Linked DNA regions of Homo sapiens: region 2 is linked to region 1. Evidence: fine-mapped expression QTL. Tissue or cell type: whole blood. Region 1 holds a variant in brackets; the other region holds the start of a gene. All regions are shown on one strand. Distances are from middle to middle.

The links. PIP is the estimated chance that this variant, and not a neighbour inherited with it, causes the effect.
Region 2: BFSP2-AS1 starts here. The variant in region 1 is fine-mapped to the expression of BFSP2-AS1 in whole blood (TOPMed, PIP above 0.99).

What each region holds. Positions count from the first base shown.
Region 1 is chr3:133,410,414-133,413,177 of GRCh38, forward strand. All of the region lies in intron 1 of BFSP2 (beaded filament structural protein 2), which reads left to right. Among named protein-coding and RNA genes, the nearest start is that of BFSP2, 12 kb to the left of the region's middle. The variant A/G (reference allele first, on the strand shown) is at 1,592.
Region 2 is chr3:133,489,994-133,492,757 of GRCh38, forward strand. BFSP2-AS1 (BFSP2 antisense RNA 1) reads right to left here and starts at 1,116. Exons shown (of 4, transcript NR_189064.1): 1 at 909-1,116. It also overlaps the pseudogene MAF1P1.

The DNA of each region.
Region 1 (2,764 bases):
ACAGCACTCCAAGCCGCGCTCTTCCAGCCCTGGGAAACCCCAGGCTGTCTCTTCGTTAAGCTCCAGTCATTCCAGCTCTCATGGGAATGATCAGCATAGCAAGGAATATCAGCGCTCCAAATCACCTGGGGACCCTAATGCAAACGGGGATTCTCCCTCTCACGTATCTTTTCCAAGTGGGCAGCACTCAAATCAGTCTTTCCCACCTTCGTTGATGTCAAAGTTCAGTTCAATGTTACAGAAACCTATTGCCTGTGTGCAGCCCGTGGGCGGACAGGAGTCCGTGGGCGGACAGGAGTCTGTGGAACCAGAGCTGTCCTCTGAGCGCTACAGTAGCCAATCCCATGGTGACAGCACAAATGAGCTGCAGCCCAGCAGCAAAGCACATCTCGCCAGGCTGAAAATACCTTTCTAACCGCTGGACCTAAGTCACACATTCAGAGCTTTTAATATTGTGACTATGTGAAGCAATTGAACATGAAATTCTGATTGAACTTGAACTGCCTTTTTGCCTTAATAGTAAAGAATGTAAAAGTTTAGAGATGTTTTAAAGTTTAAAGAAAGACTTGTGAGCCACTTCCAAGTGAATCCATAGAGACCTGTTAGCTCCCCTCTTGGGAAATAGACAAAATGTCATTTACAGTTTTCAAATATTAAAGTAAGTCAGTTATAGAATAAAAGCATGATCCATCAATTTTTAAAAGAATATTATTAAGAACATTAACTGCAATAGATTGAAATCCATCAAATATGTCAGTATAACACCGAAAAAAAAAAAAAAAAAAACTAATTAATCACCTTTGGAGCCCACTGAGGAACCAACTCATTTTTAAAACTGGTAAATAATGAGAGAAAATAAAGCATTTTCCTGCCTTTCTTATAAGACCTATAGGTATATCCAGTAAGAAAAATAAATAAAGAGAGGAATTATCTTTTTATAGATGTATTCCAGCTAATAAAGAAAAATAATAGAATTATTAATTTTATTTATATCTATAATAAAACAATGGCTCTAGGCAATAACAATAATCAAATGGCTATGACCTTCACAAAATGCGACCAGCAGCCGTTCTGCATCTCCTGGTGGAGTACACATCACCACCTATGAAGTAGTCTTGCAAACAAACAAAAAACCTGAATATGATTAAGCCTCAAGATAAAACTACTAATTTACAGAAAAGAAGGGGGTCAGATGAACGGGTTAATTCTATAGTAAGCTCTACTGTGTCTGGAAATTTAGTTTTAATAAAGGCAGCACTTGAAGCCAATAGAGGGAAGGGTGGACTTTTTAATAAGTGATATTTAGACAACTAGACAGTCATAAGGAAAATAATAAAAGTATTATTATAGAGATGAAACCAGCAAAATCCAAACTCTGGGAAACTATAAGACAAAAGACCCAATTTTTTAACAAATAAAAATTGCAAGGGAAAGAAGCAAGATGGTAAGAGAAATCTATACAGTAAAAGAGACTAAATTAACATATCAGCCCATCAAAATGGGCTTTATTTGGATCACTATCCAAACAATTAAAAAATATATTAGACACGAGAAAAGATAAACACTATTTGATAATTGAGAAAGTATTACG[A/G]AAGTATTATTAATTTTTAGACGTGATCATCGTTGTGAAGTCATGTGTTCTTTTTAAAGCATTCTTATAATTTGCCAGTACAGGCTGAAATATTTGAAGAAGAAATAATATGATGTCTGGGATTTGTTGAAAATAATCTCAGGCAGAGTGGCAAGACGTGTGGGCACAAGTAAAACAAAATAGGCCACGTGCTTATAATCAAGGAAGCTGGGTGATGCATATATGGGGGTCCACTATAACAGATTTCTTGTGACTGACATTTGAAATTTTTGTAAAAATGCAGCTAGAAGACCTACCTCATCGGGTTGGTGCAGGAATGTAAATGAAATGATGTGTGTAAATCGCCTGGCACATAATCAATGCTTTAAGTTTGTGGAATTGAATAAACTTGAAGACATACATTAAGTGAGCAGTAACACAAACAGCTGCTTACATGAGCGCGTTGATCAACCGACATACGCTGTGGGAGTTTCCAGAAAGAGCAGGGTATTGATTAGTTCTCAGCAAGGGTGCCCCAGGAAGTGGGGACTGAATGTGGGTCCCAAGGAAGATGCCAGAAGATGGCCCTTCAGAGCGGGGCCCCGCGTGGACCAAGGTGGGAGCCGGGCATGGCGTCCTCAGGGCAGTCTGGGTGCCGGGCAGGCCTCCTACCAAGCGCCAGCTCTGCCGGGGCCACTGCTCTGTCTCCCTCCCTCTCCACTTCCAGAGCCTGGCACAGGGAGGCATACCTCGACACACAGCGGGTGTTCAAGAAACGGCCGGTGGTGAAAGGTGAATGTGGAACCAGACAGGCTCCAGGTTTCAATTCAGAACTCCAGCTCAGGGGTTCTCTGAAATTCCAGACCAGCAGTGAGACAGGAAGCGGCTGCAATGTCTGACACAGAGAAACAACGCAGCAGAATCCTCTGCCGCTGTGAGAAGAGAACCAGGATGCTGGTTAGATACTGACGTGGAGCTGGCGCCAGAATGTATCTGAGTAACCACGTCTGTGCTCTGCTACTATTTCTGTTTCTTAGAAAGTGGAGGGCAGACCCTCTCTGGAAGCACACATAGGGGCTGCGGACAGTGGAGGCTTCTGGTGAGAGGGCTGGGGCTGGAGACAGGGCAGGAGCAGGCTTACTTTGGGGTATATACTCTTTGACACTGTTTGGAGGTTTTACCTTAAATAAAATA
Region 2 (2,764 bases), 80 kb after region 1:
ATGCCAGAAAATGGGAGATAAAGCCTGACAATATTCAGGAGTCTGCCACATGCGTGAAGCCTCTAGAGTCCAGTGGTCTGGGCTTTGTTGGGATAGACCTTCTAACATGAGATTCAAGTTGTACTTTACACCAGAAAGAGCCATGAAGAAAAAGATATGAAGCTTAATTTTCAGAAGTAACACAAACCAGATTTGAGTATCTGTTGCTGTGAACCACTAACTCAAGTAACCCTTAAGGGTACAAGGTTTTTGGCTTTTGTTTTTGAATTTTTATTTTAACATAATTTCAGGCTTACAGAGCAGTTGAAAGAATAGTTGAAGAATTGCCATATACCCTTCACTCAGATTTCACAAATATTAACATTTTCATAGGCAGACAGAAGCAAATTATTTTTAAGTTGAAGTAGTTAAGTTTCTTTTATACTTATTTAGTTCTAGGAATTTTGACTGATAGACATTGACTGGTGGGGGAGGTGGAGGTTGCTGGCTGACCAAGGTGATCTGTGGTGGTTGGTGGCATGTTGGTGGCTAAAGCAGGCAATGTGCAGTGTGGTAAGGATGTGTCATAGTGACCACCTGGATGAGCCAGCAGGGCCAGGTATAATGAAACATTGCCATGGAGTTTCTTCCCCCAGATACAGTGTGGCCCAGGTGGATGCCACGGTGCCACCCTCTGGTGCTGAGGAGCCCACACTGTGCGGAGCCTGCCCTGCCTATGCACCGGTGCCGATGACCCAGCCAGGCCTGATTTAGCCCCACCAGGCAGGCAGCAATGGCCCCTCTCAAGCATGGAGCTCCCTCCCTGAGACAGGAAGCTATTGGAGAACTGGGCTTTGAAGCCATCAACTCACAGCTAACTGTAGAGAGCAAAGATACCCACATTATCAGCAGGATTGAGAGCTACTCACGTAAGATAGCAGGAGACGACAAACACTGTTCTGACAGGAGGGCGGCCCACATACTGAAGGCTCTCTCCCCATCCCAGACCTCAGGCCTCAGCCCCAGCAGCCTGAGCAAGAACCAAGGTGGCAAGGACAAGGGCCCCCCTCAGGGACAAGTGCAATTGCAAGACCCTCTTCCACTTGATTGTCATGCTCAGCGAGTCCTTTCAGGCCTGACTATGACCTCAGCACAGCCCGCAGCCATGGGTTCAGCCGGAAGCCCAGCCTCAGGTGGGTGGTGAATGCAGTCAACCGCAGTCTGTTCTCAGCTGCGTGGGGGGACATCAAGGTCCTAGAACACAGCTGTGGAACACAGTGGATGAGGAGATCCACCTGGCTTAATGAGACACCCACAGCTATAACCCAGACATGGACCCAGATGCCTTCAGAGAAGAAGATACCCTCTGGTCCTTCAACTACTTCTTCTACAACAAAGGGCTCAAGCAAATTGTTTTCTTCAGCCACCGCTCCATTAGCAGCTCCACCTGCACACCCTCAGAGGCAGGCAACGAGATGGACCTGGAACTGGGGGAAGAGGAGGAAGAGAAAGGAAGCAGAGGTGGAGGCAGTGAGGGTGGGGCCGAAGAGACCAGACCAAGGAGGACAGGTTCCCAGTGATTTGTATGTGATGAGGAGTAGCACAGGCCCCAGCTTCATCCAGCTTCAACCAATGCCTGGACCTGCCCACCTGAGAGGCCCTGAGGCCTCCCCAGCTGCAGGCCAGACCCTGGTGCTGTCAGAGTCTCAGCACTGCCCAAGGCCACACCTGCCTGGCCCTTTGGCTCCAGCCTGTAGGTGTCCACTCAACCCCATAGGCTTCTGCTGCCCACGCTGTGGCTGGACTAGACAGCACAGGACCTGCTGCAAAGAGTAACCACCTTGCCCAAACGAACTACCACAGGCAGGGACAGCTAGACCACAGAGTTTATTTTTGTATTTCTGCTGGGCCTGCACACTCCAGCCCAAAGGGCTTATAGCCAGAGGCCCCAGAGGTCATGAGCTCTAGTCTTGGGTCAGCTCTTGGCACCCACCTGTACCCCCACCTCACCCATTTGGCTGCATGCACTGAGTGTCACTTTGCTGCAGCTCATTGCTTTCCAATAAAAATGTTTGTGACTTAAAAAAAATTGAGACAAAAATTTAAAAATTTTATAACATGCTCATGAATGCTGGCAACCTCACCTCCACCAGCACCCCACCCCAGCTGCCACCACCGCCAGTACAAGTGCAACACCAGCAACCCCACGGCTGCCAGTGCCCCAGCCCCCATTTTCCCCCCTACCAATGCACCACCACCACCACTGGCATGAGCACATGCAGGAACACCGCCTCCCCATTTCTGCTGGAACCCCTCCCCAGCTAACACGTGTGCACCCCGCCATGCTGCTGCAGCTGCTGCCATACATCAGTAAGCACAGATCTCACTGACACCACCCTGACCAAGTGCTTTGGCTAGCATCTTCCATCACAGTGCTGTGGCCAGCAGACTGGGAACAACTCAGCCCCTCCAGCAGAATAGATTCCTAACCTTGAGGGTTCAGATAGCACAGCCAGGCGCCCAGCACCAGCCCTCCCAGAGTTAGAGCACGCAGCCCAGGAGTGCTGAGCTGAGTCTGGGCCCCCTAAAATCTTCCAGAAATGAAGCAAGTCAACCAAACCCACCATATACCACAATCAAACCAAGATCATCAAAGAAGATAAAAGCAGAAAACCTCTCCAAAGCACATCAACTTCAAAAATTGAAGGAACATCAGCCCACACAGATGAGAAAGAACTAGTGTGAGAACTCTGGCAACTCAAAAACCAGAGTGTCTTCTTACCTC